6 separate regions of the Homo sapiens genome follow, and regions 1, 2, 3, 4 and 6 are each reported to be linked to region 5. Evidence: microRNA targets listed by miRTarBase, many of them from high-throughput screens and not tested one by one. Region 5 holds a microRNA gene; each other region holds the end of a gene's coding sequence.
What was found. The annotated mature microRNA hsa-miR-4469 reads GCUCCCUCUAGGGUCGCUCGGA and lies in region 5 at 2,289-2,310, opposite strand. An mRNA with a match to its seed (bases 2 to 7 or 8) in the 3' UTR can be bound and repressed. Matches are read on the target gene's strand: a 7mer-m8 pairs with bases 2 to 8, a 7mer-A1 pairs with bases 2 to 7 and ends in A, and an 8mer does both.

Region 1 (4,085 bases), not on the chromosome of region 5:
ATCTGTAGATCCTGTTAAGACAGGAAAAACAGTGTTGGTCAAAGGGTACACGCTTTCAGTTACAAGATGAACAAGTTCTGAATACGTAAGATAGAACATGGGAGGTGATGTGGCCGGGTGCAGTGACTCACGCCTGTAATCCCAGCACTTTGGGAGGCCGAGGTGGGCGGATCATGAGGTCAAGGGATCGAGATCATCCTGGCCAACATGGTGAAACCCCGTCTCTACTAAAAATACAAAAATTAGCTGGGCATGGTGGCACACGCCTATAGTCCCAGCTACTTAGGAGGCTGAGGCAAGAGAATTGCTTGAACCCAGGAGGTGGAGGTTGCAGTGAGCCAAGGTTGTACCATTGCACTCCAGCCTGGCAACGGAGCAAGACTCCCTCACACACACACACACACACACACACAAAAATGGTGATGTGTTAATTGACCATGGCAATCATTACACAAATGTATGTGCATATCAAACCATGTTGTATACTTTGAAGAAAATAAAAAAACGACAGGAACAACAAACACATCCTTAACACTCAATCATTTTATCCCAGATTATGCTGAGTTCATGTCTCAGGGGAAACACCAAAATCCATGGAACTGCTCTCATTTTTTATCCCCTAAATGTCACTTTAACATAGGAAATGTCCATTGTGGGGTTATTTGCATTTAAACACAGGCCAATGAAAAAAGCTAAATTAAAACGTAATTATCAAGGTAATGGAAAGATATCCTAATCTCTTAATTAACAAGACTATCAGGAATATTTTGAATGTCCAATCACTCTAGGAGTCCCAATTCTCTTAAGGTAAGAACTTCAGGATTTAAACAAACTCAATGTGAAAATAAACATTTATTATAAAAATTAGTTTTGACATTTTAAAGTGAATGCAGACAAGGTGTTTTCCAGTTCAAAAGGTCCATTGTAAGCTAGAGAAGTAAATTCCAAGGCTGGCAATAACTGACTCATATTCTTCACAAGTGGCCTAGACAATAAGGAACCATTCACCTCAAATTCACAGAGCCATGAATCACCTCTGCTTCCCCATGACCTTTTCCATATCCTTCCTACTCTGTCTTCCAACCATGACACAGAACTGAAACATACTTTAAAAATCTCATCCTTGGCTAGGCACGGTGGCTCACATCTGTAATCCCATCACTTTGGGAGGCCAAGGCAGGCGGATCAAGAGGTCAGGAGTTTGAGACCAGCCCGACCAACATGGTGAAACCCTGTCTCTACTAAAAACACAAAAATTAGCCAGGCATGGTGGCACGCACCCGTAATCCCAGCTACTCAGGAGACTGAGGCAGGAGAATGGCTTGAACCCGGGAGGCGGAGGTTACAGTGAGCCAAGATCATACCACTGCACTCCAGCCTGGGTGACAGAGCGAGACTCCGTCTTTAAAAAAACAAAACAAAACAAAACAAAAAACAACAAACTCATCTTTACTGAACCATTTCATAAGCTCTACTTTATTTGTCTAGTTGGATTTCATTTCTTCTGGAAAATTTATTGTTTATTGGCATGTGACCCTTGACTGATGGCTTCATTAGCATTTTGTTTTTCTTTTTGGATCCTTAATAGAAAACTCAATTCTGTTAGGGATTTCCAAATAGGATAGGGCAAAGTCGCACTTAGTATATCCTCCACAGAAAGAAAGAAGCAAAATCAAGCCAAGAGGGCCCTTTACTTGTCCTCTTGCTAAGTTAATAAATAGACTGGTGGATGGTGGTAGATGGAGAAACAAAAATGTAAGGGCAGAGAAGGGTCCAAATGGGGAGGAAGAAAGCAATGACAGCCAGGCTGTCCGGCTCATTCCTGTTCATTCACATGCAGACCACCCATGATCTGGTCTTCAAATTTCTTCTGAATTCCACCCCACTAAATACAGTAGCAGTTACTACTTTAAACTACTACTAAAGCACTTGTTCTCCAAATGACCTGAGAAATCCCCTTGCCTCAGCTCTGGGACAGTAGTTCCTACAGCTGTAGGGAGGTCTGTTAATGCACCTGGCTGAACAGGAGGTACAAGAGTAAGTACCTTCTCTCACTTGGTGGAACAGGCCAAGGAGATCCCCCAAGTACAGCATCAGCTTCACCCTGTGTACCTTCCTCCAGCAAAGGAAGGCCTGGCCACAAGAGGGCTCTGGAATGAAGGCCTGAAATTCAGAAGCTCTGCCTTGAGATAAGAACCAGGAAGGGGCAGGACCAGGCACTGGGAACCAGCCCCAGGTTGCTGGGAAGCAAGGCTTTGAGGCATTTTCCTGTTGTACAAAGGAGCCTAGGAACCCTCAAAGACCTTTTCCCCTACTTACTTCCCACAAAAAAGAGCCTTGACAAACCAAGGTTTTATTTCCAGCAACATTCAGCTGATACAAACACATAGAAATACAATCTCACCAAAGAGCTAAGAAGCCCTCCAACACACGCCCAATTTCAGCATACAGCTAAGACTACACAACACACACACAAGCTCAACAAAGAGCTAAGACCACTACACACATCTCCACAGCACCACAGGCACATCTCAAAAGGGTCTGTCCAGTAGTTCCAGCCAAGGGAAGGGTGATGGCCTAAGCCACCAGCTCCAGCTTTCTTTTCTTTCTTTTTTTTTTTGAGCTGGAGTTTTGCTCTTGTTGCCAGGCTCCTGAGCAGCTGGGATTACAGGCATGCACCACTATGCCTGGCTAACTTTGTATTTTTAGTAGGGTTTCTCCATGTTGGTCAGGCTGATCTTGAACTCCTGACCTCAGGTGATCCGCCTGCCTCAGCCTCTGGGATTATAGGCGTGAGCCACTGCGCCCAGCCTCCAGTTTTCTTTTCTTTAGAGCAGCGGTTTTAAATCCTTTTGGCTTCAAGTTCTCTGAAAATTTACTATGCTCTCCACAACAAGAGCTCCCATTTTCCACAGACACAGTCAATGTCAGTCAGCTTGTATTCAGGAGGACAGGGCAGAGGGATCCCAGTGGCACTTCCCATGGGAAGACAGAAGAGAGTGGGCCCCAGAGATGGAAGGACCCCAGTGTCATCACCAAACAACCATTTCAGCCGCTCTAGCCTCTAATTCCCGCTCTAGAACAGCTGGCCCTGGTCGTCAGTACACAAGGAAAGAGCCCAGAACCAAGCTCAAGATACCTATTCAAAGATCCCTGCCAGCCAGGTGGGCAGTTGAGTGCAGATTCCTGCGACCCCCGCCATTTTTGCTGTCTACTTAGAAGGGAAGTCAATGGCATACCCAGGATTCCTTCCTGATCCCTCAAAGAAATGGGGAATAAACACTTTAAACAAGTTCCAGGCCACTCAGCAGTGGTAGGAAAGGGAGGGAGGGCATGAAGGAGGATGGGGCACATAGCTGACATTATTAAAAACACATCCGAAGAAGTAGGGGGCCCTGTGGGGTGTAGAAGACAAATAAGGCATCCTGTGAAACTACAGACATCAGGGGCCAGAGTCCGGTAGCACCTGAGTAAGGCAAATGCAGATGATAGGCGGTGAGCCGACCAGGCTCACACCAGGAATGACGAGGTCTGTTTGAATTCTCCCTGCAGAAATAAAACATCCAGTCAACTCTCAATAGTCTTCTTTAGCTGATAATCCCCAAAACACATAAACATGGGCTAGAAATCTCCTCACTCCAGCCCCAGGTGGCCCACCCCTGCCCAGGGGAGGCATACTCACTTCACTTCGGGCACTAGGCTGGCTGTAAATCACCTTCTTACTCGAAGTCCTGTGAACAAGCCAGAAGACAGAGACACTCAGCCACCTAGGTGCTTATTAACCTCCCCTTGCCAACTTTAAAGGCCAGAAGCGAGAATGCTACAGAAGCACAGAGTGCGCAGCAGACAGGTATGGGTGGGGTAACAGGACAGACCCAGGGCCAAGGCCACAGAGAAAGGGCTGGATATCCAAATGCCTTCCCTCCAAACTGGTTGCTTCTGCCTTCAACCCATTCCCCTAGGCCCACTTCAGCTTCAAACCACATGCATCCATGCTCTCAAACTTGGAGAACCCCAGGACAGCACCTCACTCACCCTTTCTTTGTTCCTGAAAGAGAAGAAATGGGATCATGAGTGTCAGCAGG
Region 2 (4,089 bases), not on the chromosome of region 5:
TAATTCTTCATTTTCAATCTAATACCTCACCTCTATCCCCACTATGCCTGCTGCTGAATGCAGAGGCTCTGATAGTTTAAGTTCCCCTGGACATTCTGAAATTTCATGGGCTTTTTCATTCATTATGCTGGGCACTCATGGACAGTTGGTCTGGAAACTTGTGACCTTTGGGCTTAGGAAACCTTAAGTCTATCTTTGCTAACTTCCTCCCTACCATTTCTCCAGAGACGGAATCTCCCATTTTATGCAAGGGAGTAGGGGTAATCACTTGGCTGGATCAGATGAGGTTGGGACTTGGTGGGGCTTTTTCTTATACAGATCATCGTGTAATCTCCTTCCACCCCACCCCTAGTTCTCAGCGTCAGTCCATACCCTCCTCTGAGGTGCTGAACCTTTTATGGGTTCAGAAGGGCACATTGGCTTACTTCTTGCCATTAACTCCCTCAGCAGGTAGAACCCAACTCATTCTACTCTGTTAAGTGACTGTTGACTGTTCTGTTTTTCATCTTCCAAAATGTTGGCATCTCTCATTCATTGTCACCTCCTATTTTCCTTATCACTGGGTCATGTGGCTTTATTATTATATTTTTTGAGAGTTTCGCTCTTGTCACCCAGGTTGGAGTGCAATGGCATGATCTCGGCTCACTGCAACCTCCGCCTCCTGGGTTCAAGCAATTCTCCTTCCTCAGCCTCCTGAGTAGCTGGGATTACAGGTGCCCCCCACCATGCCCGGCTAAACTTTTGTGTTTTTTGGTTTTTTTTTTGAGATGAAGTCTCGCTCTTGTCCCCCAGGCTGGAGTGCAATGGCGCGATCTCGGCTCACTGCAACCTCCACCTCCCAGATTCAAGCGATTCTCCTTCCTCAGCCTCCTGAGTAGCTGGGATTACAGGCACCTGCCACCAGGCCCAGCTAATTTTTCTATTTTTAGTAGAGATGGGGGTTTCATCATGTTGGCCAGGCTGGTCTCGAACTCCTGACCTCAGGGGATCCACCCACCTTGACCTCCCAAAGTGCTGGGATTACAGGCATAAGCTACCACGCCTGGCTTTTTTGTATTTTTAATAGAGACGGGGGTCCACTATGTTGGCCAGGGTGGTCTTGAACTCCTGACCTCAGGTGATTCACCTGCCTCGGCCTCCCAAAGTGCTGGGATTACAGGTGTGAGCCACTGAGCCCAGCCAGCACGTGCCTTTTTAAAATAATTCCTTTACTGGTATTTCAATAGAATTTTTGGAGGGGGCATAAAGGCTCATGTGTTTAATTTTCCGTATTTAACTGGAAAGTTTTTGTTTTGCTTTTAATGCATGCTTCCAGCCTCTTCTATTTTTTAGGCCACTCCAGCATCAAATTTCTGTAAAGCCTTCCCTAATCACCCTAACTGGAAGTAATCTCTCTTTCTGAAAAAGCTCTGTAGACTACTTCTGATTTCTGCTATACATTCAGTACAGATACAGGGATGTCTCACTGTACTAGGTCCATGCCATAATGCCAGAATCTTCATACTAGACACTAGATCCTATACCTAACAAGACAGAAACTGAGATTTACTAGAAAATTAAGCCAAACCCTGGCCAGCCTGTCTTTTCCTTTTCCAGTGATGCCTTCATACCCACAAGCTGACTTCAGTCAGCCCATCCTCAGTTTATATCCTTTTTTTTGAGACAGAGTTTCACTTGTCGCCCAGGCTGGAATGCAATAGTGTGATCTCAGCTCACTGCAACCTCCGTCTCTTGGGTTCAAGCGATTCTCCTGCCTCAGCCTCCCGAGCGGCTGAGATTACAGGCACCCACCACCACGCCTGGCTAATTTTTGTATTTTTAGTAGAGACAGGGTTTCACCATGTTGGCCAGGCTTGTCTCAGACTCCTGACCTCAGCTGATCTGCCCACCTCAGCCTCCCAAAGTGCTGGGATTACAGGCGTAAGCCACCGCGCCTAGGCCAGTTTATGTCTTTCTATCCAACTAAAATGAATAAAGGCAACCATTTGTTCTGTAACATCTGGGACGGTAGGGATGGGGGGGTAGAGCATCACTTGTTACAACAGTCACATTAGCCACCGTTTAAGTACCACTAAAGGAAATTATTATTATTATATTGTTTTGAGGCAGGGTCTCGCTCCATCACCAAGGCTGGAGTGCAGTGGCACAATCTCGGCTCACTGCAACCTCCGCCTCCCAGGTTCAAGCAATTCTCCCTGCTTCAGCCTCCTGAGTAGCTGGGATTTCAGGCGCCTGCCACAATGCCCAGCTAATTTTTGTATTTTTGTAGAGATGGGGTTTCGCTATGTTGGTCTCGAACTCTTCGCCTCAGGTGATCCGCCTGCCTCAGCCTCCCAAGGTGCTGGGATTACAGGCGTGAGCCACTGCACGCGGCCAGAATTGTTGACTCACTCTATATGAAGACAAGGAACTCAAAAAGAAAAGACAGAAAGGCATGTCTCTTTTGGTTAAGGTTAAAGCAATACAGCAAAGTAACAAGCTCCAGGTCAAGAGTCCAATATCACACCTGGCTCTGTCAGTTACTAGCTAGGGAAGCTCTGTGAGCTTCAGGCACCTTATCTGAAAATGGGGATAAGACTTCATGGGGCTCATGTGAGGATTAAATGAAACAATATGTGAAAACTGCTTGCCTGTCACATAGTAAACACTCTCAAGGGAAAGCACCCTTCACATGGCCTTCCTGTGTTCTTGGGACCTCCATTACTGGCTCTGGGTTATATTTGTCTGTGGGGCCAATTTTCCCTTCACTGAAACACAATACGCTGAAGGACAGAGTTCTGGATTCTGAGGGTCAAGTCCTTAGCTTTACCCCTCAAGAGTCATGTGACCTTGAGCTGATTTCCTTATTTCTGATGAAGCGTGGCCCAGCTTCCTGACAGAACGAGTACCAGATCAACTGGAAAAGGCATGTGAAAGGAACTGGCATGTCTAATGGGCTTTACATATGGTTGGCAACATAATCCTCTGGCAGAAAAGTGTTCAAAATGGGACTCTATGGAAACGGGCTTAGGCACACCACCCCAGGATCACAAGTTGGTCCACAGAGGCTGGAAAAGAACCTCCGCCCTCCACTACCCATGAGCCATGGGAAAGGTTAATTAGCAAGGTACCACAGTACCACCTAGTGGCTGGCACACCCGTCCTCCCTCTCCCCCAGGTGTTAAGGAAAGGCTATCATGTGATTCTGGTCACATACTTCACTGGCTGATTAGTCAGGGATGGAGACAAACCAAATACACCACTCTCTCTTTTAATATTAACATATACAAGCAGCAGAAAGAGCCAACTGCTCTCTGCTGTTCCCTGAGGGAAAGCCGGAGCACAAAGCTGTTCCTCTGGCCTTCCTCCAACTGCCGGGCCTGCTTAGCTCCTCCCTAGGCAGAAGCTTTGTTCCAGCCCCACTTCCACATCCCAACTCCACAGTCAGGATGGGAGGCACATGGTTGCTAGCAGGGGAAAGAATACTGTAGTTCCAGCCTCTGCTCCTTTCAGTCTCAGCCTGGATGGTGGTCACTCATCCCTCTGCAGCTAGTTCCTCACTTGTCCCAGCCCAGGAGCCAGGAGGGCACTCAATCACACCCAAAGGAGCAGGCAGTGTGACTTCAGTCATCTTCAGATGACTCCTCTTCTGCCTCTTTTAGCCACTGGATGAACCTCTGCAGCTGTAAAGAAGCAGAGGAGAGATCGGCTGGGGGAGGTGCACATAACTCTCCTGCTCCCCTCGGCAGATAAACAGCTCTAACAACCAGAGCCCCAGAAACCAACCACCCTAGAGTCTAGGGGCCAGGACCTGGGAATGAGATAACCATCTTGGCGAGAGGAGGACAGCCTGACGCACCTGTTGATTCTTGCGCAACTGCTGGCCCTTGTCAGTTGTATCTCTTTGGCTGAACCAGCTCAGAATTGTTTCCTCAGCCAGGATCTCCAGCTGGTAGAAAGCCATCAGTACCTGCAAAAGGCCAATAAAGGGGACCTCAGGGGCCTTGGAAAGTCCAGCAGGATACTCTACCAGGCCCTCAGATCCCTCTATGCACTGAGTAGCCTCCTCCAAAACGGACAAGAGTGAGCTGTTCGCTCTGCTCCTGGGGC
Region 3 (4,087 bases), not on the chromosome of region 5:
AGCGACTGCCTACCTGCCCATGCTGGAGAAGTGCTGGTATCCCACCTCAGTGCCAGTGCTATACCCAGGCCTCAACGCCTCTGCCGCAGCCCTCTCTAGCTTCATGAACCCAGACAAGATCTCGGCTCCCTTGCTCATGCCCCAGAGACTCCCTTCTCCCTTGCCAGCTCATCCGTCCGTCGACTCTTCTGTCTTGCTCCAAGCTCTGAAGCCAATCCCCCCTTTAAACTTAGAAACCAAAGACTAAACTCTCTAGGGGATCCTGCTGCTTTGCTTTCCTTCCTCGCTACTTCCTAAAAAGCAACAAAAAAGTTTTTGTGAATGCTGCAAGATTGTTGCATTGTGTATACTGAGATAATCTGAGGCATGGAGAGCAGATTCAGGGTGTGTGTGTGTGTGTGTGTGTGTGTATGTGCGTGTGCGTGCACATGTGTGCCTGCGTGTTGGTATAGGACTTTAAAGCTCCTTTTGGCATAGGGAAGTCACGAAGGATTGCTTGACATCAGGAGACTTGGGGGGGATTGTAGCAGACGTCTGGGCTTTTCCCCACCCAGAGAATAGCCCCCTTCGATACACATCAGCTGGATTTTCAAAAGCTTCAAAGTCTTGGTCTGTGAGTCACTCTTCAGTTTGGGAGCTGGGTCTGTGGCTTTGATCAGAAGGTACTTTCAAAAGAGGGCTTTCCAGGGCTCAGCTCCCAACCAGCTGTTAGGACCCCACCCTTTTGCCTTTATTGTCGACGTGACTCACCAGACGTCGGGGAGAGAGAGCAGTCAGACCGAGCTTTCTGCTAACATGGGGAGGTAGCAGGCACTGGCATAGCACGGTAGTGGTTTGGGGAGGTTTCCGCAGGTCTGCTCCCCACCCCTGCCTCGGAAGAATAAAGAGAATGTAGTTCCCTACTCAGGCTTTCGTAGTGATTAGCTTACTAAGGAACTGAAAATGGGCCCCTTGTACAAGCTGAGCTGCCCCGGAGGGAGGGAGGAGTTCCCTGGGCTTCTGGCACCTGTTTCTAGGCCTAACCATTAGTACTTACTGTGCAGGGAACCAAACCAAGGTCTGAGAAATGCGGACACCCCGAGCGAGCACCCCAAAGTGCACAAAGCTGAGTAAAAAGCTGCCCCCTTCAAACAGAACTAGACTCAGTTTTCAATTCCATCCTAAAACTCCTTTTAACCAAGCTTAGCTTCTCAAAGGCCTAACCAAGCCTTGGCACCGCCAGATCCTTTCTGTAGGCTAATTCCTCTTGCCCAACGGCATATGGAGTGTCCTTATTGCTAAAAAGGATTCCGTCTCCTTCAAAGAAGTTTTATTTTTGGTCCAGAGTACTTGTTTTCCCGATGTGTCCAGCCAGCTCCGCAGCAGCTTTTCAAAATGCACTATGCCTGATTGCTGATCGTGTTTTAACTTTTTCTTTTCCTGTTTTTATTTTGGTATTAAGTCGTTGCCTTTATTTGTAAAGCTGTTATAAATATATATTATATAAATATATTAAAAAGGAAAATGTTTCAGATGTTTATTTGTATAATTACTTGATTCACACAGTGAGAAAAAATGAATGTATTCCTGTTTTTGAAGAGAAGAATAATTTTTTTTTTCTCTAGGGAGAGGTACAGTGTTTATATTTTGGAGCCTTCCTGAAGGTGTAAAATTGTAAATATTTTTATCTATGAGTAAATGTTAAGTAGTTGTTTTAAAATACTTAATAAAATAATTCTTTTCCTGTGGAAGAGAAAGATGGTCTCCTGAGTTTTTTAAAATAGCTCACTTGGTGTGATATGGCTGACTCCCATGTCCTTCTTTCTTGGCTGAAGCAAACCAGTTAATCTCAGTGTAATTTCATTCAGCTTTTCATGTGCTTTGTATTCAATCAGAATAAGCTTAGTCAACCTGGCAGGTAAATATTGGTTCAATTTTTGTTTAACCCTTGCCAGGGGTTCATGATCATCCTCTACCTCTTTCCAGAGTTAAGTAAAAAGCATATTTTCCCCTGCCTGCTTTCATCGTGGTCCTTGGAACTTGACAGAAAACCAAGGTATGACACCGTGGGCAGCAGTGTCTGGGGAGCCTGCTGGAGGGAGAGGCACATTGAGAAAAGATTTACTGGATTATTATGCAATACTAATTGATGCTAGGATAGCACCTCTTTGCCAAAGCAGTCTAGCTTTTTCAAATCTAGCAAGGTCTAATGGATTTGCCATATCCTGTCTTATTCCTGCTGGAGGCAACATTCCATAATTATTTTCTACATCCTTCCTGGACTTCCTCTCCGGTATGTTTGTGCGTGAATGCATATTGGGTGTTCCTTCGACAAGTGCTCTTATTTAAAAAAAAAAAAAAAAAATTCCATGGGAAAGGTGGGAAATGACCCTGTCGTGTATTTTTGCCTCTCTCCTTTGCCTTGATTTGCAACATTCCTGTGGGATACTCCCTGTCAGAGGTGTCCTGATGTTTCCTGATGGCCAGCGCCTGACTCAACACGCTCCGGCTCCCAAAGCATCCCAGTCTGCCAGGACTCCCTGGTTGTCTGGAGTACAGCAGGGAAGCTGCCCCTAGGGATTTCTTAGCCAGGCAGAGGCTCCACCTGACCATGAAGACTGTTTGCTTCACATGTCACCTTCCCTGTCTCCTGATGGGCCAGCAGGTGAAAGTGAGCATTGTCTGCTTGTGCTGGATGCATATGGAATGCACGTAACTGTCCCCAGGCCACAGGCTGTTGTGCAAGGAGCCGGGACCAGGAGGTGGAAGCCTGGCATCAATAGCTGGTGGTCTATCACCTCCCTCTCCACGCCTGCTTTTGACTAGATAAAATAAGAATTCCGAGCCCTTCTCACAAGTCCCAGAGCAGGCAGATGGCAAATTCTGTAAGCCACTCTTTCTCCCAGCCCAACGCCTGGGCTTCCAGGTCTCATGCCTGTGAAACACCTCAATTGCTCCATGAGTTGCCAGACCTCTCTAGCTAGACTTTTTTGGAAAAAACCCAACAAATCAAACTTACCCTGGTGATATAGCCGGGGGTTGAAAAATCAAGACCAAACTCTTTTTGCATAACCCTCTCTTTTTCCCAGGCCACTGCAGGAGGAGTAGCTTTGGGGAAAGGAGGAAGTGGTTGGAGCAACCTGAACTAAAAAAAAAGATTTGAGGGTTCCACACACAGTCAACCCAGAATCCCGCTATGGGAACCTGCCCCTGTCAAACAGCGCCTCAAGTTGCAGCTGTCCCTCCACTTCATTTTTTGCTTCCAGCTCGCCCTTAACCTCTCTTCTAGCCCAGTTCTAGCGGCATCCAAATGCGCTCAGAGGGAGGTGCGGGGGAGGGGCGCGCACCCCAGCCTAATGCCCACTGCGGACAAAGAGGACTTCTGTTTAAAAAGCGGGGTGTGTGAGTGTCAGGGGGCGAAGCGCTGGCTCCGGGGCCAAGGAGAGGTGGCAGGAGGCAGGGGAGCGGAGGCTGGGCATCTGGCCGCCTTCAGACAGGGCGTGATCCGCCGGGCCTGCCGGGATGGTCTCACCCAGCGCTGACCTGCCCCGCCTGTTGACACAACGTCACGTTTCCGACTGCAGCCCTTTCATGTGCGGCCCGCGGCTAAAAGCGGCTGCCGGTTCCTGGAAGCAGACGTGCCTGGCACCGCGTCAGCAGAAACCTGATCCCCGGGGAAGCTCGGCAAGGCCTTGGGATCGCTCGGCCCCCAGAACTAGGGCCTGGCAGCGGGCACGGGACGCCCCCCCTCCCTCGCGCCCAGCAGGAGGGAATTCGAGCGCTCCCCGTCGGCGGTGGGGAGGGAGGACTGGGTGGGGTAGGGAGCTGGATTTAGGCAGAGCACGGGGACCAGGGCTTAATTGACTAGAAGCTAGAAGCTTCCCACGGGTCATCGCTCACTAATGCACGTCAAACAACCTAGAAGTATCATTATGGGTACTATTACAATTCACATTTTGTAGATAAATAAAAGCAGGCTCAGAGAGGAGAGGTAACTAGCCCGAGGTCACACAGCTTCTGAGGGGGCTAAACCTTTTGTAGGATGGTGGATCTGTTGGTTTGTGGGTCCCTTAATTGGATCCAAGGAGAAGGCTTTCACAGAGCCGAG
Region 4 (4,103 bases), not on the chromosome of region 5:
GTGAAGGGGAACCTCACGCCGCTGACCGGGAGGAACTACCGGCAGCTGCTGGAGCGCCTGCAGGCACGGCAGAGCCGGCTGGACGAGCTGCGCGGCCAGGATGAGGGGAAGGCGCAGGAGCTGGAGGCGAAGATGAAGTGGACCAACCTCCTCTACAAGGCGGAGGGCGTGAAGATCCGTGACGACGAACGCCTGCTGCAGGAGGCCCTGAAGCGCAAGGAGAAGCGCAGGGCGCAGCGGCAGCGCCGGTGGGAGAAGCGCACGGCCGGCGTGGTGGAGAAGATGCAGCAGCGCCAGGACCGGCGGCGGCAGAACCTGCGCAGGAAGAAGGCGGCCCGCGCCGAGCGCCGCCTGCTCAGAGCCCGCAAGAAGGGCCGCATCCTGCCGCAGGACCTGGAGCGCGCAGGCCTGGTCTGAGTCTTTCCCACCTGGGGCCGCCGTCTTCCGTCCTAGGAGACTCCAGGACACCCTCTGAGTCCTTGACGCTGGCTCTGTCCCAGGATCTCCACAGACCTCGGCCTCTCCATGTGAGGGGGACACAGTGGTGCTCTGCTGAGTTGTGAGGGCCCAGATCACAGATCCCATGTGAGAAAGAGAGAGTTTCAGCGTCATCCTTGAACGCAGGATCCGGGACCTTCAGACCCAGGGAAAGGGTGAGGGAGACTGGGGCCTGGTCTGCTTTCCCGGGCCTGAAAGCTTCCCCGAGGTTTGCAGGGTCAGGGAGGAGGAACGGTGGGGGTGGGCAGTCACTGCCTGTTCCCCACTGCCTGTGTTCGCAGGAGCCACGGGACAGAAGACGGTGGCCTCTGCTGCCGGGCCACGTTAGTCCGCAGCTCACCCGAACAGAGGACAACCCTGAGGTGTGGCATATGGGCACCTGGCACTGGGAGTCGGGGGAGCACGTCCAGGCGTGGTGCATCCTGGGGCAGAACGCCATGGCTCCTCCCCGCTCTCTTGGCTTCTGCCTGTTGGGGTCTCATTCCTTTCTGTTCCCCAGTGCCCCGGGGCGGCATTTTACTGCTCAGAATTTGGAGGGAGGGAGCAGTACCTTCCCGGAGTCCACGCATGTGAGTTGGGTCAAGTGCATTGGACCTAGGGAAAGAGAAAGAAAGAATAAAAGCTGGAGAGAGAGTGAAGTGAATGCAAGATACAAAGTGGGATGGAAGAATTAAATCCAGAGTTCCAGGCAATCAAAATGAGTGCAGGTTGAAAGAAAACAGGTGAATTTTAGTGGCATATGGATGATAAAGCTGTAAATAAAATTCTTTTGATGAAACTCTCCGGTTATGAGACAAAGACTGTAACTGAACAGGAGCTGGTGTGACTGTTACCAGACAGAGGCAACTGATGAAAAAGCCCTGTGAAAGATAGGATGTGAGGTGAGCATGAGCTTGAGCTGAGAGACAGACACAACAGTATCTGAAAAGAATACATACTCTTTCCATGCATATATGGAACATGGATGGAAACTGACCACCTACTTTGTCCAGAAAAGAAGTCTTAAGATATTTCAAGGAATCAGTGTCGTTATCTGACCGTATCCCAATGTCATTAAAAAAAATTTGAGCTATTTTTTTTTGTTTTTTAGATAGAGTCTTGCTCTGTCACTCAGGCTGGAGTGCAGTGGCATTTCATATTTGGAATTTTTAAAACACACTTATAAATTACCTATGAGTTAAAGAATTCCGAATGGCTATTAGAAATATTTGGGACTAAAGGATAATGAAAATGCTACGTATTAAAATTTGTGGAACAGGGCCTGGCATGGTGGCTCATGCTGTCAATCCCAGCTCTTTGGGAGGCGGGTGGATCACTTGAGATCAGGAGTTCAAGGCTAGCCTGGACAACATGATAAAACCCCATCTCTATTAAAAATAAAAAATTAGCTGGGTGTGGTGGTGCAAACCTGTAGTCCCAGCTGCTTGGGAGGCTGAGGCGGGAGAATCACTTGAACCCAGGAGGTAGAGGCTGCAGTGAGCCAAGATCGAGCCGCTGCACTCCAGCCTGGGTGACAGAGCAAGACTGTCTCAAAAAGAAAAAATTTAAGATTTGTGGAACAGAGCTAAAGCAGCACAAAAAAACATAGCCCCTAAATGTATGTGCATCTACAGATAAATAGTGCCATTTATACACACATACGCTGTATGTCTGTATTTTTAAAGCTAAAGAAAAATAAGCATGCAGCTTAAGTTGGAACAACTCAAAGTAAATGGAAGAAAAATCTCCAAAACTGACTAAAAGTAATAGAAAGCCTGAGTTGTAATCACTGATGAAATTGAGTCAGTAGTTAAGAATGTTCCCCTAGACGGTTTTACAGGGAAGTTCCACGATATAGAGAACAGGTAATTCCAGACGTAGACAAATTCTAACAGAATCAATTGAGAGAACACTTCATTCGTGAACTTAGCTTTGATACCAAAACTAGGTAAGAGAAAGGGAAGTTACCAAATACCTGTGGGCGGCAAGCCACCCAGGCGCCGAGGCAAGAGACAGAGGACACGAGCTGTTCCAGTATAATAAAATATAAAACAAGAATAGTTACAGCAGATATAGATCTTAGATATGATTACATATGAATATCATTAATCATTAGTTTGTAGCAATTACCTTTTATTCCAATATTATAATAATCCTCGCTCTATAATCATAGCCTAGGAAAAACCAGGCCATACAGAGATAGGAGCTGAGGGGACATAGGTGTGACCAGAAGACAAGAGTGCGAGCCTTCTGTTATGCCCGGACAGGGCCACCAGAGGGCTCCTTGGTCTAGCGGTGACGCCAGCGTCTGGGAAGACGCCCGTTGCCAGGTGGACCATGGTCTAGCAGTAGCAAAAAGTATCAAGGAACAACACCCGCTACTTAGCAGACCGGGAAAGGGAGTGTCCCTTTCCCTGGAGGAGTTTAGAGAAGACTCTGCTCTTCCACCTCTTGTGGAGGGCCTGACATCCGGCAGGCCTGCCCGCAGTTATCTGGAGGCCTAACCGTCTCCCTGTGATGCTGTGCTTCAGTGGTCACGCTCCTAGTCCGCCTTCATGTTCCATCCTGTACACCTGGCTCTGCCTTCTAGATAGCAGTAGTAAATTAGTGAAAGTACTAAAAGTCTCTGATATGCAGAAGTAATGGCATAAGCTGTCTTTCTCTCTGTCTCCTCTCTCTCTCTGCCTCGGCTGCCAGGCAGGGAAGGGCACCCTGTCCAGTGGACACGTGATCCACGTGACCTTACCTATCATTGGAGATGACTCACACTCTTTACCCTGCCCCTTTTGCTTTGTATCCAATAAATAACAATGCAGCCAGACATTCGGGGCCACTACCGGTCTCCGAGCATTGGTAGTAGTGGTCTCCCGGGCCCAGCTGCCTTTTCTTTTATCTCTTTGTCTTGTGTGTGTATTTCTACACTCTCTCATTGCTGCACACAGGGAGGGAGAGACCCACGGACCCTGTGGGGCTGGTCCCTACAAATACCAATGTCAAGATTTTAGACAATAATAAACCAAGTTTAGCAAAGTGCCACACTGGATTTAATTCAGAATTGCAAAGCAGTTTCAATGCCAGAGAATCAAGAGTGTAATTCATATCAATAGATTAAAGGAGCAAAACCCACGTGACCATCTCAATGGTTGCAGAACAGGAACACAGTAAATGACGCGACAGCCATTTATAACGAGTTTTTAGCAAACTAGGAATTAAGGTATTTCCTTACTCTGATAAGGGGATTTGGAGCCAGGCATGGACCCATCTTGAAACTACATTCTGGGTCAGGCAAATGTAGATGTATTGGAGGGAAAGACATCCCCATGGGTTCCCAAGAGGTGAAGTCATCATAGTGAACTAAGGGGCCAGTGAGGGTCTGGAAAAGGCCACTGCCATCACCTGGCTACAGAGACTGAAGAGGCGGGGGGGGGTCTCGTCCTGAGCAGAGACAGGACAACTGGGTGGGCCAGTGAGGGCTGCAGGTGGGGGAAGCTGAGAACCCAGCAATATTTTACTGCCACTGGATGTCTGCACAAGGAACCTATGCCAGCCAGGGAGGTTGAGAGTGAGGCTCAGTGGGGACTGGCATACTGGCTGAGTGGATGCAGTCATTGAGCAACGCATGTCAT
Region 5 (4,095 bases):
ACCGGAGTAACCAGACAGCTAAGACAAGTTCAACTCACCTCTCCTCAGGCATTTCCAAAGCTTTCAGGGAAGGAAAAAAAATAAAACACACAGAGAAAATAGAAAAATAGGAAATTCCGGGACTTCCTGGAACAAAGGAGAGAATCTCAGTGTCTTTTTACCCCAAGGCTTACGTAGAAACTCAGCAGCCACATGGCTTCTGCAATTACTCACATCCAAAAAGTTTTTACTAATTTCTTTCATCAAAGGTAACTGGAATTACAAAATGAAACCTCCAGAACAACGTAACATCATGCACAAAAGCACTGTGGATATGCAGCCAAGCTTGAAAAAGGAGACTTTAGGTCCATTGTGTCAAAGCCTTGAAAACCGGGGCCACTGGAGGAAGGGTGCTCAGGACGGCACAACCACAGTCGCTCCAGTAGGGCCAGCATCTTATCTGCCCATCTAAAGACAAGCTGCATGTGAGTCAGGAGTAAGTCAATGTGACATATACTCACTGACTTCATTCACTTGCCTACAAGATTATACGTCACTTAAAAGTGCTAGAGATTCGACAGAAATAACCTGATAAGGAATGTAGGAACTCTAGTTTGACAAATATCCAGAGGCACCAACACAGGAACCAAACACAGGCGAGACACACATGTGTAATTTTTTTTTTCTTTTGAGACAGATTCTCGTTCTGTCGTCAGGATGGAGTGCAGTGGCGCGATCTCGGCTCACTGCAACCTCAGCCTCCCGCGTTCAAGCGATTCTCCTGCCTCAGCCTCCCGAGTAGCTGGGACTACAGGAGCCCGCCACCACGCCCGGCTAATTTTTGTATTTTTAGTAGAGACGGGGTTTCACCATGTTGGCCAGGATCTCTTGACATCGTGATCCGCTCGCCTCGGCCTCCCAAAGTGCTGGGATTACAGGCGCGAGACACCGCGCCTGGCCACGTATGTGTAATTTCTAAAGGTTTCTCTGCCCTTGGTGTAGGGAAGAATGTTTGAAAAAAAGACCATTGAGAATACTTCAGGTAAGTTTTTTTTTTTTTACACTTACAAAATGCTAAATGATCAGGGGTCAACTATCAAGTGGTACTCTGTAAGGCAACCTTAAAAACTCACTGCTGACCCAGGCTCGGTGGCTCACACTTTTGATCCCAGCACTTTTGGGAGGCTAAGGCGGGCGGATCACTTGAGCCCAGGAATTTGAGACCAGCCTGGGCAACATAGCGAGACCCCCTCTCTACAAAAAATAAGAAAATTAGCTGAGCATCGTGGCCTGCACCTGTGGTTCCAGCTACTTGGGAGGCTGAGGTAGGAGGATCACTTGAGCCCAGGAGGCAGAGGTTGCAGTGAACCAAGATTGCGCCACTGCACTCCAGAACGAGACCCTTTCTCAAAAACCACCATCAACAACAACAAAAAACCCCACTCAATGCTGTCTTGGCAGTTTTCAGTGCTCAATGAGAAAACCTACTCTTAATGGAAAAAAAGTGGGGGAAAGGGGTTCCAGGAACTACAAAGCAAAGTGTGTCTTGGGAAGTTAGCTTTGTTGCACTCCAAATAAAAATTTGGCATTGGGTGGTAGTTATGCATACTCTACGCATCGACAATTCTCTAAGGACTCCAAAGTGCATGTCCTGGAAATTCCAACATATTTGCACTACGTTCCAGGTACACTAGAATGTTTATAGCCATGTTCTGAGTGGCCTCAGTCTGAACAAAATGCCCAACCAGAGTAGAATGGATTCACTGTTCTATTCACACTGGAATACTAGGCAACAATTAAAATTACCTATACATACACAGTACACCAATTTAATACTGATTGAAAACCACAAAACAACACACTGTGATCCACCCGCAAAAGTTCAAAAACAGGCAAAGGAAAACGACATCGCATGCACACATAGATGGTAAAGCTGTAAGGAAATGATCACACTAGTCAGGCTAGGAGACAATCAGGCTCCGAAAGGAGCACAGGGCATGGGTGAGAAACTCCTGGGGTGCCGGTAATGCCCTTTTCGTTTTTATCTGGGTGTTTTATTAATTCTTCTTTAAACGTGTATGTCGTATGCACTTTTCTGCGTATGCTATATCTGTTAAAAATTTATCGGCAGCCCAGCAGACAGATTCGTGCCTCTAAAGAGGTGGAAGCTCCAGAACGATCCGCCTCGCCATTAAGCGAAGGCAACTCCGAACGCTGAGAAACGCAGGCCCGGGGTCGGCCGGTGTCCTTACGGATTGGCGAGCGGGCGCACACCCCTCCTGCATTAAGGAGAGTTCTCAGGGTCACGCTCCGAGCGACCCTAGAGGGAGCGGCGGTGTCCTCGCCGCCGCCAAACCCACCTAGAGCCGCTCTCCGCGTCGGCCCCTCCACCGTCGCCGGCGACTCCGGACAGCCGCGGGGCGATTCTGGGGCTTCCAGACGAGGGAGGGGCCCGGGGGGAAGGAGGCGGCGACTCCCGCCGCCCCGCAGAGCCTCGGCGGCCAGAGCTACCCCAAGAAGGCCAGACCCCGCCGTCCGCGGCTCCGCGGGCCCCGATAGGGTGGGCGTGGCCGCCGCGCGCCGGACGTACCTCTCCACCGCGAAGGAACTACCTCGCCAGTTCCCGGCGACAGAGGACAGATTATTTCCAGGACCGCTCCCGCCACCCCTCCCGGGCAACCCACTAGACGTCCCCTTTCTAATTTGGAGTGCGGGTGCGGGCGCACGCGCACTGCCGAGCTTCCGCGAGGGCGCGACCGGACGGCGGAGGAGGACCCGTCGCCGCAGCCTCCAGGGCGGAGCGCGTGCTCGCCTCGACACGCAGCGAACTGGTGGCGGGGGCGCGCCCGGCGGCAGCGGCGGCGGCGGCGGCGGCGGCGGCGGCGCGGCGGCGCGGGTCGGCCGGGGCGCGAGCGTGCGCAGTGGCTCCTCGGCCTCGGCTCCAGCCAGGGCGGCGGCGCTGGGGAGGAGCGGTGTGGGCGGCCGGGGGCGGGGACGCGGGGCGGCGGGCGTGTCCGAAGTCGCGCGCGGCTGGCGCGCGGTCCCGAGTGAAAGGAGAAGGAGGGGCGCTGGGGGTGACGGTGCGGAGCCGCTGCCAGCGCTGGGCGAGAGTCGGCGGCCGGATCCGAGGAGCAGGCGGGCCTGAGGCCGAGTCAGCTGCGCGGGCCCCCGGATCCCCCGACAGAGCGGCGGCGGTGTCTGGCCAGGCGGTAGGCGCTGCCTGGCCGCGGCGGGGAAGATGTTCAGCGTAGAGTCGCTGGAGCGGGCGGAGCTGTGCGAGAGCCTCCTCACTTGGGTACGTGGGGGCCGCGGGCCGGCGGGAAGACCCCCTCCCCCCGCCACCTACCGGGACCCTCCACGCGCGGCCCGTGGGGCGAGCGCTGCGGGCGACGGTGCCGTCACATCCGGGGCCTGGGGCGGGCGGGGCGAGGAGGCTCGGCCCAGGGTCCGAGAGAGACTTGCCGGGCCTGAGGCGTCGCTGTTCCGGGCGGACCCCGGCCGGGGCTGGGCTGGGAACGCGGCGGGCGACTCTGGGATCCGTGCGGCTGCTCGCAGCTGGGGCTGCGCTGCGCTCTGGGGGTGGCCGAGCCTGACTGCCCCGCGTCCAGGACCCGCCGCCGCTCCTCGCCTTTGTTGCCGCGTTCGCGGAGGACGGGCCCGGCTCCGGCCCGGGAACTGAAAGGACCTGTGAGGGAGCGTGGGGAGAATGCGGGAGGCGCCCGGGGACCCCGTTTCGGATGCAAGGCACCGCTGGCGGTGGGAGTGCGCGAGGGGCGGACGCCTGTCAGAGGCGTCGGGCAGACGTTTAAAGGAGTCTGGAGGTGTCTGGGCGTCAACAATGGAACTCGAAGGCCTTGGGGGACAGAGTCGTGGGATTCTGATTTTGAATTCTTAAACGGTTTTAGATTCCTCATACTTTGAAGTAAATACATGTTCACCTCTCACGTCAGCTGCCGCGCCTTCCTGAAGCCGGGTCTTCAGGACGCGGCAGGGGAACCGACGCCCGGGTTCCAGTCGTTCTCGCCGCGGCGCGGCCGGGGAGGGGGAGGGATGCGCAGAGCCCGGGCGGACCCCGCGCTGCCTTCGGGAGCCTCCGTTTCACTCATTGCTGAGAAT
Region 6 (4,000 bases), not on the chromosome of region 5:
AGTTTTGAAAGTACTACAGTTGACTACACACGCTGTTCCAAAATTCACTGGCTAAGTAAAAACTTAAACAGGTACTGGATAAATAACTAAAATCTTGAGTAGCATAAAGTTCTGGCTCTTAGCCCTTGTGAAAGGGCTTCTCACTGGAGAAACACCATCAAGATGTATGTCTCAGATGCTCCTTACATTCTTAGCCTCTGAGTCCTACCCTGTTGATAGCACTGATTTTTCTGGAGGCTTTGTTGAGGGCTGAAACTGCCAAGGATGGCTTCCATTTTGGATTCACCCTTTGTTGTCCTATGCCGTGAGTTAAAATGCTTTGTCTTTCAAGGCACTCTTATTTTGAGAGTTATTGAGATGATCTCTCTGACTTATAGTAATGGAGAACAGTTTCCTTTTCTTGGTAGACAGTAATATCATTGAAAGCTTCACTAGCCAGTTTTCTCACCTTTTGTTTCTATTTTAGGCAGAAATGGACCTTAAGAGACTGAGAGACCCATTACAAGTACATCTGCCTCTCCGACAAATTGGTGAAAAAGATTGATCTGCAAAAAGCCTCTGAATCCTGGCAGAAGGAACACCTGTTTGCCTTTTTAATTAAAGCATTGCAGGTGGAAGCTGGGAGCCATGTGGGGGGTAGAGCGTTTTTACCTTTAATTATAAAACAAAAACAGAAAGGATCTGAGGGAAGAAGGGAATGTTAAAACCTGAGGATCAGGCATTGTGGAATATAAGCTCAAAGGGCTTAGTGAATATTGTCTTAACCAAGTATCTCAGTTTCTGGATGAAAATGATGCAGTTATATAGTTGAGAGATTCATAAAGAGAAAACAATGCTGGGGGTGTTCGTTTCTTGCATCTTCTTTGCAGAGTCAGCAAAAGAGTAACACACCAGCACCCCACTCGACTCTATTTGTTTTTAATTTAACTGTCCCTATTTTTGACATAGGAGTAAATAAATATACTAGAAAAGCAAATTCTCATGATATGCTAAAATATCATTAGCATTTATTTTAAATTGGACCCAGTCTCTGCAGAGTTACCAGGAATCTTTCCTTCCAGCATCCCTTTACTGACCACCTACCTGTACCTCTTGGTTACACTCATTTTTTCCATTTGATAATTGGAACCAACTTATAACTGTTTAATAATTGACACTTTAGATTATCTCTTAATACCTTCTTAAATGTCTATATATCCCAGTGCTCTGGATCAGTGTCTAAAAATCACTGGCAACACTGCATGAGGTTGTTGGTTTTGTTTTGTTTTATTAATTAGTCTTTCACAGGAGGAATAATTGCCCTCCTTTATATACTTATCTATTGATAATCCCCTCTCCCTCCAGAACACAAATCAGAGGGAAAGGGGGTGTTCAGCTGTACTACCAAATCAGGAAGATGTAAGGTTTACAAATTGGCTAAGAATCATGGCTCTGTAGCCATTTCAACCAGAATAATTTTATTGCTAATCTGCTTTGTGTGACAGCATTCCAGGCCAGCCAGATGGGACTGCCTTGTCTGGAGGCTTTGTTCATCTCGAAGGACACACACTTCCACACTGTTTGTGAGCCCTCCCACCTCCACAACTTCAGTTGTAAATCAAGTGTGTGGATCTCAAAGGGTGCAATTTATCTTTATATAGGAATACATTTCTAGGGCTTCCTTCAAGCCCACTCTCTTCACCCTATTTTTTCTTATCTTAAATTGAGAGAAAGAGAATTAATCTTATACTTTGTCAAAACATTTTCTACCATATTTCCAGATGACATCTGCGCTTGAAGAGTCAAAGGAATCTGTGTCTAATATCCTGTTTTTAACTGCTGTAGGGGCAGGATGGAAAGGATGATGGGGGCTGCCACACCACTGATTGGCCTTTTCTTTCACGTGATTCATCCTTCCTCATTGTGGCAAGGAGTTTCTTTCTCTTTTTCTTCCTCCTTTGGGATCATTGTGTATGAAAAGAAAAACTTTAAATGACAAACCCAGACTCCAGGTGCCTTGCAAAGGTTGAAGGCCAGCCAGGATTGCTGCTGCTGCTGCTACTCCTGCCAACACCCCTTTCATTGGCATGACGGAATGAAAGGATGCATGTCTCCACTTCCTGACCCTCCGCCCACTTCCTTCTCCCTCCACCACCCCCAGTCGTCAGCTCCTTCCCTCATTTATTTTTGTTAAGTTGTGTGAATTATTTTTAACCCATTTATCCTGTTTGTGCATAGGGTTTTTAAGAAGAAACAGCACAGTGCAACGAGCAAATCTTTTTGGGGTGTGTGGGAAGCAAGGGAGGGAGGACATGGAGAAAAGTTCTTTAAACAAATAGCAAACTATTGAACATGTGTAAAATCCTGTATCATTTATGAAATATGTATAAAAAGCAATGTACCTTCTGGAACAATAAATACTTATTCAATTTTTGAACGATAGCATCTCATTCTTTAAAACAAAACCAGAAAAACTACATTTCCTGTGATTCTAGGTGGGAAGTTTTTTACTTCTAAAATTCATTTTTATAAAAATATCATTATCAAATTAAGCTCTTCCTTAAGCCTATATTTCAAAAATAGGCATTTCACTAGTTCTTCCTGAACCTAAGATAATCAGTATTTTCCTAATTTTCCAGAGCCACCAAGAGGTTGAGTGACCTGTACAACCGTTAATAAAGTCAGCAGCAGCAGTCTCAGTGAGCCTGAATCCTCATCTCCTGATTGACAGGAAAAATCTCTGTGGTATCAGATCACCTGGATTGCCCAGTGCTATGGGCTCCTGGACTCAAGAAAATTGTTCAAAGACGCACCAAAATTAAGTATTCATTATTTTCAGAGTTTGTATCAAATTTACAGTGGTAGCCAAACAGGAAATATCACATGCTGCCAAGATCACCACAGGCATATTTAAAAACTTGTATTAAATATCTGGTTGCTGGAGTGCAATATGAGGTGCTGTTCAAAGAGCCTCTGTAGCTGTGGTCCTGCCTTCTGGCAGCTTACAGCAGCCTAACGCAGACAACCCTTACCCCCATGTAAAGTGTAAGAAGGTAAGGTTTGACAGAGCAGAAGCATCGCCATCTTGGACAAGCACTGCCATTTTAAGTTCTCCCAATTAAAAACCGCCTAAATCCAGCCCAGAAAACATCAGCCTAATGGCTAATGTCAGCATGACCATAAACCATAAATGACACCTTAGACCAGAAACTTTCCAACCCTGAGATAAAGCCCCCTCTGACCAGAGACATCCCAGCCCCGAGATAACCTCCCCTCCGAACAGACATTCCACCCTTGAAATAAAATTCTCCTCCACCCAGAAACACTCCGAGCATGCGATAAGCTCTCCCTTGCTAAACCCTTAAGTACCCTCAGTCTGTAAGACAGAATGCTCCTGATTGAAATCAGCCAGAATACTCCCCAAAATAAACCTGTCTTTGACTATTGAGCCACTTCTTGTGTTTCCTCCTTCTTTCTTCAACTCTTACAAGGTTGAAAATATTAAGTCGTTTTTTGCATTCAACAAATGGTATCTACATACTTCACACATTCTGTTAAGCTTTGCAGGGTTGTGTTTGTTTTGGTTAGGTTTTTTAAGGAAAATGAAAACATGATTCCTGCCTTTAAGGAGCTTACAATTTGAAGTTTAAAGCAGGAGTATCCAATCTTTTGGCTTCCCTGCACCATACTGGAAGAAGAAGAATTGTCTTGGGCCACACATAAAATACACCAACACTAATGATAGCTGATGAGCTAAAACAAAACACAAAAAACCCTCAATGTTTTAAGAAAGTTTACGAATTTGTGTTGAGCTGCACACGGCCTGCAAACCATGGGTAGGACAAGCTTAAAGTATAGTGAACAACAAAGGAAACCTTATTAAAAAATGGGCAAAGGAGTTGGACAGTTCTCCAAGAAAATATATAAATGGCCAATAAACATGAAAAGATGCTCAACATCACTAATAAGGAAAGGTAAAACTACCATGAAATACCACTTCACACCCATCAGAATGGCTATT

Region 1: miRTarBase lists F11R as a target of hsa-miR-4469. Seed matches in the 3' UTR shown: 7mer-m8 at 382-388.
Region 2: the mRNA of EIF2B5 is a reported target of hsa-miR-4469. The part of its 3' UTR that is shown has no 7-base or 8-base seed match.
Region 3: the mRNA of BHLHE40 is a reported target of hsa-miR-4469. Seed matches in the 3' UTR shown: 7mer-m8 at 974-980, 7mer-m8 at 978-984 and 7mer-A1 at 1,603-1,609.
Region 4: the mRNA of SURF6 is a reported target of hsa-miR-4469. Seed matches in the 3' UTR shown: 8mer at 656-663, 7mer-m8 at 1,032-1,038, 7mer-m8 at 1,036-1,042 and 8mer at 3,421-3,428.
Region 6: miRTarBase lists MCU as a target of hsa-miR-4469. Seed matches in the 3' UTR shown: 7mer-m8 at 2,282-2,288.

What each region holds. Positions count from the first base shown.
Region 1 is chr1:160,995,361-160,999,445 of GRCh38, forward strand. F11R (F11 receptor) reads right to left here. Exons shown (of 10, transcript NM_016946.6): 8 at 4,036-4,048; 9 at 3,683-3,731; 10 at 1-3,546. The coding sequence ends at 3,511. Among named protein-coding and RNA genes, the nearest start is that of F11R, 24 kb to the right of the region's middle.
Region 2 is chr3:184,144,457-184,148,545 of GRCh38, reverse strand. It overlaps EIF2B5 (eukaryotic translation initiation factor 2B subunit epsilon), which reads right to left. Exons shown (of 16, transcript NM_003907.3): 15 at 3,839-3,949; 16 at 3,235-3,662. The coding sequence ends at 3,603. Among named protein-coding and RNA genes, the nearest start is that of DVL3, 8.9 kb to the left of the region's middle. RefSeq lists a silencer at 3,155-3,204.
Region 3 is chr3:4,983,446-4,987,532 of GRCh38, forward strand. It overlaps BHLHE40 (basic helix-loop-helix family member e40), which reads left to right. Exons shown (of 5, transcript NM_003670.3): 5 at 1-1,878. The coding sequence ends at 247. Among named protein-coding and RNA genes, the nearest start is that of BHLHE40-AS1, 5.5 kb to the left of the region's middle. RefSeq lists enhancers at 1-424, 285-334, 515-694, 1,125-1,184, 1,195-1,254 and 2 more.
Region 4 is chr9:133,328,183-133,332,285 of GRCh38, reverse strand. SURF6 (surfeit 6) reads left to right here. Exons shown (of 5, transcript NM_006753.6): 5 at 1-3,510. The coding sequence ends at 417. Among named protein-coding and RNA genes, the nearest start is that of SURF6, 6.0 kb to the left of the region's middle.
Region 5 is chr8:42,893,915-42,898,009 of GRCh38, forward strand. MIR4469 (microRNA 4469) reads right to left here and starts at 2,361; the gene lies at 2,283-2,361. It overlaps RNF170 (ring finger protein 170), which reads right to left and starts at 2,691. Exons shown (of 7, transcript NM_030954.4): 1 at 2,570-2,691. It overlaps HOOK3 (hook microtubule tethering protein 3), which reads left to right and starts at 3,064. Exons shown (of 22, transcript NM_032410.4): 1 at 3,064-3,274. The coding sequence starts at 3,218. RefSeq lists an enhancer at 1,808-2,369 and silencers at 2,276-2,487, 2,283-2,642, 2,823-3,612, 3,623-3,682.
Region 6 is chr10:72,885,279-72,889,278 of GRCh38, forward strand. It overlaps MCU (mitochondrial calcium uniporter), which reads left to right. Exons shown (of 8, transcript NM_138357.3): 8 at 467-2,416. The coding sequence ends at 544. Among named protein-coding and RNA genes, the nearest start is that of OIT3, 6.5 kb to the right of the region's middle. RefSeq lists an enhancer at 1,733-2,027.